Regions from separate parts of the Homo sapiens genome. Here region 1 is linked to region 2. Evidence: fine-mapped expression QTL. Tissue or cell type: spleen. Region 2 holds a variant in brackets; the other region holds the start of a gene. All regions are shown on one strand. Distances are from middle to middle.

What was found. PIP is the estimated chance that this variant, and not a neighbour inherited with it, causes the effect.
Region 1: AKR1E2 starts here. The variant in region 2 is fine-mapped to the expression of AKR1E2 in spleen (GTEx, PIP above 0.99).

Annotation. Positions count from the first base shown.
Region 1 is chr10:4,824,558-4,828,725 of GRCh38, reverse strand. AKR1E2 (aldo-keto reductase family 1 member E2) reads right to left here and starts at 2,519. Exons shown (of 10, transcript NM_001040177.3): 1 at 2,363-2,519. The coding sequence starts at 2,401. RefSeq lists a silencer at 2,013-2,092.
Region 2 is chr10:4,889,824-4,893,991 of GRCh38, reverse strand. It overlaps the pseudogene AKR1C6P. Among named protein-coding and RNA genes, the nearest start is that of AKR1E2, 66 kb to the right of the region's middle. The variant C/A (reference allele first, on the strand shown) is at 1,647.

The sequences.
Region 1 (4,168 bases), 65 kb after region 2:
GACAATTTATTAACAGAGAAGAATACCATGCTTGTAGAAAAGTTAAGATTTAACATTACAAAGGTGTCAATTATCTCCAAGCTGGTCTACAGATTTAATGTAGTTCCAATCAAAACCCCAATAAAGTTTCTCATGGAACCTTCTAAGCTAGTTCTAAAACTTACAGTGGAGAGTAAGGTGCCAAAATAAAAAGCCAGGACCCAGGTACATGCATCTGTCAAAACTCATCAAATTGTACACTGTAAATCTACAACAGCAGGGAGAGGTGACCTGCCCTACTAGGTATGGGCGCTTATCAAGGAACTGTAGTAATTAAGACAGCACCGATCAGGCACACAGATGGATCAAGTGGCCCCTAATAATGAAGAGCCCAGGCTGAGGTCTCCAGACATCTCACCGCTCCCCTTGCTCTCTTGTGCTTCAGCCATCATCTTGAGAACACTCCCTAACTAACCGCACGAGGACAGGAGATGTGCGGAGCCAAGTGGAGTAGCCCCAACCATCCCAACTGAGCCCAGCCAAGGTCCACAGAGCTGCTCTCCTGACCTCCCGTGTGGGAGGAATACACTTGCTGCTGTACACCACTGAGGTCTGGTGTTTGGCCATTGATGCAGCATTTCTGGGGCAACAGATAACGGATAGGTCTGTGATGTTTATTCACTATTAAAAATAGACGAGTAAAAATAAGCCTTTGCATAGACCAGTGATGAGTGATTATGATTAATCCAATTTGATGCACCTGCAGTCCAAGAAAAATAAATAGAATATTTTGACCTGTTAAGCACAGTTTTCACTAATTTTTCCTTATCCTGTGTGCACGAAAGTCTGGACTCCTGCACCAAATTGTTGCAGAAATAAAGGGAAGCAAGAGACTCAACAGTTTAATCCATCGAGTGCTTACTGAATGAAGGGCTGACAGATGCACGTCCTTCACTAGATGCTGAGAACCAATATGAACAAAACGACACTCCTAGCCTCTAAGAGTTGGTAAGCAGGTAAGAGAAATAATTTAAATAATATTTTCATGAGCAGGCCTTGAACATTCTGACTCCTTCAGTAACTAACTTCCTATATGACTTCTTATAGCTTTTATCAACAACTAAGTTTAGCTTTTTTTTTTTAAAGATCAAATTTTAAACGCTTTTTAGTCAGTGCTGTCTCAAATCACTGGCAGGAATTGTGAAGTTCAAAGCAGAGAAAGGTCGTAGAATAGAATGGTGGTTATAAGACGCTGGGGGCTGGGGGAGGTGAGGAAGGAGGGAATGGGGAGTTGCTGATCAAAGGGTACAAAGTTTCAAACACACAGGAGACACAGCTTTTAAGACTTACTGCGCACTAGGATGCCAACAGTCAACAATAATTTACTACACATGTGTATTTCAAAATAACAAGACATTTCAAACATCTTACCACAAACAATAATAACTGAGAGAGGTGATAGATATGTTAATTAGCTTGATTTAACCACATTGCAATTGTATACACGGCTCAAAACATTACGCTGCACCCCATAAATGCACAGAGCGATTATATGTCTCAGGCATCAGGGCAGGTTGCTTCTAAACAGGGAACAACATGAGATCCCAAAGTTTCTTTTAAAGCCTAATCAGCAATTCCAATTTTCCTTTTTTCTTTTTTTTTTTTTTTTTTCCAGCAAGGTCTGGCTCTGTCCCCAAGGCTGGAGTGCAGTGGCGCCATCAAAGCTCACTGCAGCATCGACTTCCTGGTCTCCAGTGATCCTCCCACCTCAGCCTCCTGAGTAGCTGGGACCACAGGCGCGCACCCCCAAGCCCAGCTGATTTGTTCATTTTTTGTAGAAACAGGGTTTCGCCATGTTGACCTGGCTGGTCTTGAACTCCTGAGCTCAGGCGATCCTACTGCCTCGGCCTCCCAAAGTGCTGGGATTACAAGCCCGCACCCCACGCCCGGCCCCAACTTTTCTTTCTCTCTTTGCTGGAGAGGAGGCTTCGAGGTTCCCTGTTCCGGCCGAGTCCAGCGCCGCCAAGGCCTCCCCTCGGCATCCCCGCTCCAGTTCTGAGTAACTTCAAGGGCTCCGCCTCTCCACAGAGCAGCCCCGCCCAACGCCGCGGCCGCAGCCCCAGAGTCTGAGGCTTGGCTGCCGAGGTTCCCGCTTCTCCCAGAGAGCGCCTCGGCGGGCAGCACCGACTCCGTTTTAGGAAAGGCCGGGCCGGGCTGCTTGTGGGCGGTGGGCGGCCACCTCAGCAGCGCCTTTCCCGGGCGTCGGCCAGGCGGAGGGGAGGCCGCCGCACTTCTCCCCAGCCCCGGCCTGGGTCCCATCGGGCGCCCCCAAGTCCCGCGCTCCCCTAGGTCAGGCGCGCCTCCCTGCCCGCGACCGCGTCACCTTCCAGGAGCTGAGGCCCACGGCTGGGATATCTCCCATGGCCGCCGCCGGCCGCCCCGCCGCCCCGCCGCCCCGCACGCGACTACCGACAGGCACCGCGCGAGCTACTGCGGCGCTGGCGACCCGCCGTTGCGACTGGCTGGAAGTGCCTTGTGACGGCTGACACTCCGACAATGGCTGGAAGCATGAACGCAGGGCTTCCTGACTGGCTGCTGGTGTCGCGCGCCGGGCACTGACTGGCTGGTTGTATTAAGGACGGGCACCCCGATTGGCTGGAGGCGCAGAGCCAGCTGGAGTCCCAAATGGCTGGAAGCACCGCGCTCTGGACATCCTGATTGGCTGGCGGCATAGACGACGGAATTTTCGATTGGCTTGCAGAGCCACGCAGGAGCAGGGAAGGTTTTACAATCGGCTGGCATTGCCGCTCACGCCCCCACCTTAGGTGTGACCTCCTGGTTGCCTTCTCCCTCGCACCGGGTGCATATGCGACTGAGGGTAGGGCAGAGGTGCTAGGTTGATGGGCAGAGAGTCTTCACCGTTCCAGGGCCTCGCCATGGCCGGGCCATCCTAGGGCAAGCTCTAGGGTCAGGGTGCAGAGTCCTGCGTCCCCTGGGGCACAGGGTGCGCGGGAGTGGGTCCCCGCTCTCTTGTACCAAGGATGGCCATTCTCAGGTGCCCCGAGGCCCCCAGTCTGGGAGAAGCGTGCCTGGCCTTGGTTCCCCGTCAGGGAGCCACTGTGCCCTTGGAAAATGCCTTCCACTCCCTGGGTCCTGGCCCAGAGCGGCTGGGGCTTGCAGGACAGCGGGGGTCCTGGGTGGTGCAGGGGAGGCCGAGCCCTGCATGTAGAGGGGAGCGTCCTTGCTTGCAGCCTCGGGCCCCCGTTTGGAAGTGGATGGGGTGGACTGGACACCCCCCTTATGAGTGGACTGGGCTCCCCCAGGGCCAGTGGAGGGAAAGAGGGGTCAAGGGAGCCTTCCGACGCCCCTCTTATCTCTCCTGGAGCTTACAGCTCCCCCTTCATTGCCCCCCTCAGCCCTGGGAGTCCTACTGCCTTGAGGACACCCACACCCAGATGAGGGCTTTGTTTCTAGGTTCCTTGCCTGGGTCTTCAGTGCTGGCCATCAGGGGAGGCGCTGCCCATTCTGCTCAATGGGGCGGCTGCAGCCAGAGAAACTCCCAGGGTCACTCTGGGTGTCCCCCTGCCTCCCACCCAACTTGCATCTCCTGTGAGCATCCATCTCCTCAATGTGAGCTCCTCACAGGTGGGAAGGGGGATCTTCGATACTCTCATTTATTCATTCAGAAACTGTGCCTGGAGCACTCACCTGTGCACGGGGCAAGTTAGGCCAGGGTGCAGTGCTGAAAATGACCTGCATGGGCCTTGCCCTCAGGAGCTCACCATCTGTAGGAATGAATGGACAGAGCATAAAAGCAAATGCATGAGAAAAAAAAAGAGCAGGTGCTATAGTAAAATAAAGCAGGTGCTTGTGGTGAGAGGCGGAAGGGACAGAGTGAGGGAATCCTCAACACCTCAATGAAGTGGCATTTATGCTGCAAACAGAAAGGCAAAGAGTGAGGGAACCAGCCCTGCACAAGTCTGGGAACAGTATTCCTGGGGGAAGCTCTACTGCACTGCAATCGTGTATCATGCTATTTCATTGTTTTAACAGAAATTCCATAAGTCTATGACGTTGAGCATCTTTTACTCTGCTTCTTTGCTATCTGTATATCTTTGATAAGGTGTGTTTTCAGGTCTTTTGCCCATTTTTTATTTGGGTCATTCATTTTCTTATTGTTGGATTTTAA
Region 2 (4,168 bases):
TGATTACATATTATGGTCTATTCCTGTGCATATTTTAAAACTGATGGGCAAATTGAAAATAAAAATTCAGAGCTTAAATGGTTAACCCGTAACTACAGAGTTAATGAGAGTCTTCTGTAACTATTTATCCTTTATTTCCTTTCCTGCCTGCTTTGTATCTGCTGTTATTAAGCTACTGGTGTTGAGATAAAACTTACTATTTGTATTAATGTCAATTCAAGGTCACTTAGTGATTTGTCTGGTACAATAAGCCTTTAGTTAGACTTATCAAGCAAAAAATAGACAAGATGCAAATTATTAAAATAAAAAATGAAAGAGGAGACATTGCAATCTCTTTAAAGATAACTCAGATGAAATGACAAATTCCTAGAACAATATAAAATACTAACACTGAAAAAATGGATAATATAAACAGTTCTATAACAAGTAAAGTGATGTAAATACTAATATATATTTTTATAAATTCACAAAGAAAAGCCCAGATACAGTTGGCATCATGGATGAGTTCTACCAAACATTTAAAAATTAACACTAACTTTCTCAAACTCTTCCAAAAATAGAGGAGGAAAGAACACTTTTAAGGACTCACTTTTAGAGACCAGTATTACCAGATACCAAAGCCAGACAGACATCACAAGAAAAAAAATTACAGAACAAAATCCCTTATGAATACAGCTATAAAAATATAAATAAAATGCCAGCAAATTGAACCCAGTAGCACATAAAAGCATTATATACCATGACCAAGTGAAGCTTATTCCAGGAATGCAATATTGTTTGAACATACAAAAATCAATCAATATAATACATTGTATTAATAGAATGAAGAACAAAACTACATGATCATCTCAACAAATTCAGAAAAAGCATTTTAAAAACTCCAACATCCTTTCATGATTTTAAAAAAACACTCAAAAAACTAGGAATAAAAGAGATTTTATTTTATAAAGAGCAACTATTAAAAAAAAACCCAAACTTCATACTTATTGGTAAAAGACTGAACGCTTTCCTGCTAAGATAAGGAACAACATAAGAATGTCTATTCTTGCCACTGCTATTAAGCATTGTACTGGAGGTTCTAGCTAGGAAAATTAGGCAAGGGAAGAAAAGCATCCAGATTGGAAAATATTTTAGATTTAGAGCTGCCATAACCTATTACTCACAAATTGGATGGTTTAGAACAACAAAAGAGGATTGTATTCTCTTCCAGTTCTGGAGACTTGAGTCAAAAATCCAGTTGTTTATAGGGCCATGCTCCCCATGAAAGCTCTCGGGAAGATGGTTCCCTTGCCTTTGACTAGCTTTTGGTGGCTCCCAGTAGCAGTTGGCATGCCTTGGCTTATAGTTGAATCACTTCAATCTCTGCCTTCATGGTTACATGGCTTTCTTTTCTGTGTGTATTTGTATTCTCTCTTCTTATTCTAAAGACTTTAGTCATTGACTTTAGAACCCACCTTAATTCATTATGATCTCATATTAACTAATTATATCTGTAAAAACTTTATTTCCATAAAAGGTCATATTCTGAAGTTCTGGGTAAACATGAATTTTAGAGGGACACCAGCCAAGCCATTATAAAAAAGAAATAAAACTATTTCTACCTGCAGATTACATAATCATGCCTGTAGAAAATCTTATGGGCTAGT[C/A]GCATTGGCTCACACCTGTGATCTCAATATTTAGGGAGGCTGAGGTAGGAGGACTGCTTGAGACCAAGTGTTTGAGACCAGCCTTGTCAACATAGTGAGGCCCCATTTCTATTCTCATAAAAAAGAAAAAAGAAAATCTTAAGGAATCTACTAGAATACTATTAGAGCTGATAAACAAGTTCAGACAAGTTGTGGGATACAAGATCAATATAGATACAAGATACAAGATCAATATAGAGGTCACGCGACAGGGTGAGACTTCATCTCAAAAGAAAAAAAGGTTGTTATAAAAATAGTCATTGTATTTTCTTTTCTCTACAGATTTCCCTTAATAAAGGGAAAAAAACCCTCTGCTTTGCAGGAAAAGTAAAAGAAGATGAGTTTTAACAGACTCCTTTCTGTAAAACTGAATGATGGAAAGTTCATGCCTATTCTGGGGTTTGGCACCTCTGTTGCTAGGAAGGTAACCATAATGGCATTGGGGATGGAGGAGTAGCAGGTGGTTCCTGATCAGAATTAGTCACTATGTGAGTTTGGGAAATTCAGGTGGGCCTCACTTTTCTCATTTTAAGACACTTCTCACCAAGTTAGCCCTTGGTGAGAAGTTAGCCCTTACTCACCACTTTGTGGATTAAGTAAAGGCTTTTCACGTTTTAGTAGTGATATAAACACTTCAGGATCTTGTTAAAAATGCAGATTTGGAGGCTCTATCCCTGAAGGTTCTGATTGAGTAGATCTTGGATGAGGCTGTAAAATTCACATTTATAATAAGCTCCCAAGCAATTTTGATGCTGCTTGTCCAAAACCACGCTTGGAGTGGCAGTCCGTCAAGAGAGATGGAAGTGTGCAAGCAATTGCTCAGAATTCAGGGGTGGGTAAGTCTGTGGCTGTTACTCTCTCTTGTTGTACAGTTGTAGCCATTTTCACAGTATATTAGAGGAAATAAAACACTATTGACATGATTACCATGTGCCAGAAACTTCACAGCAAACTTTAAAGTTGTGCTGTAATTTTTAGTACCCAAGTCCTCCCTGTTCACCACCAATAAGAGTATCTAGAGAAAGTTGTGTGGCAAAGGAACTTGGGGAAAGAGAGGCAGGCTTAGAGGTAGCTGTGTGGTCTAAGGTGGCCACGGTCTCTGAGAAGCCAGGTTGGTAAGACGGTGCCATCAAAGAGTTATGTAGTACTTGGAAAATTCTCTTCTCTTTGGCTCCATGCATGTTTCTGGATCAAACACTCCAGACCTACAAGGGCACATCTCAGTGGTTCCTGGTGAAGAATGTTATAAAAGTTGTAGGATTGTTTCCCAACACAAAAGAAACATGGTGTGTACCATTGAGGACTGCAAAGAAGACTCTCATGAAGTATTGCTTTTGCCATGCCTTGGCTCTTTAACCTGGGGATAGTTTATCTTTACGGACTCAGTTGACTCAACGGTAGATAGAAATGAAACAAATATACCCAAAAGGCATTATAATTACTGAGTGAGGTGTAGGGGGTGCTAATATAAACAGAAAAATTATGGATGACTTAAAGAGTCCAGGCTGGTGGGCCAGGAGAATAAAAAAATATAAGAAAGATGTGAAGGAGAAAGTGATGCCTAAGAACCAGCAAAGCAACCAAAAGAAGAATTAATTATGAGTTTTTTTAAGTGAAAAAAGTTTTTCTTTTAAAATAATTTTTTATTTTAAAAATAAAATAATTTATTTTAAAATATTTTAAAAGAAAATAGCTTATTTTATTTTAAAAGCTATTTCTTTAAAAATTTTCTTTTAAAATGATTTTTTAAAATGATTCCTATTTTTGTTCTTCCTCAAATGTTCTTTGTTTTTCCAAGTTTAGATAGGTAAATTAATAATTTATTGTGTCTAAAGTTATATCTTTATGCAGATAGATAATTATTAGCATTAAATTATTGGATCAAAACCAATTTCATAATCTCTTATAGAGCAAATTAAGTTAGGAATGTAAATCTATAGATTGTGCAAATCTATAGATCATATACATTCTATAAATACATAAATAGAGGTTTAAAGACTGTGACGTGCTCATGAGGACTCAAAAGAGTGTATTGTGAGCATCTTTGCCCAATTTGGCAAGCTTGAACTTATCCATGGTGGGAGTATTTACACTATTGAAACTGGCAAATACTACAAACCAGGACTTCCTCAGAGCTAGCTGTTAAACATTTACCATTGATTTTTACTCAACATTTAGCTTTGCCACCTGTAGCTCTTAGCCCTTAGTAGGGAAAAAAAAGGTTCTTTTGAATATCTCTGCTAAGAGAATTGATCATCTGTTCCTGAGTCAAACAAATCTTTATCTCTTTATGCTCTTCCAGGTTGCTATGAGTAATGTAGAAGAAGCCGTCCAGGTAGCAATTGATGTAGGCTACCGCCATATTGACTCAGCTTATACACACCTGAATGAAGAAGGCATCGGGCAGGCCATCCGAAAGAAGATTGCCAACGGCACTGTGAAGAGAAAAGATATATTCTATACCACAAAGGTGCTGTGTACCA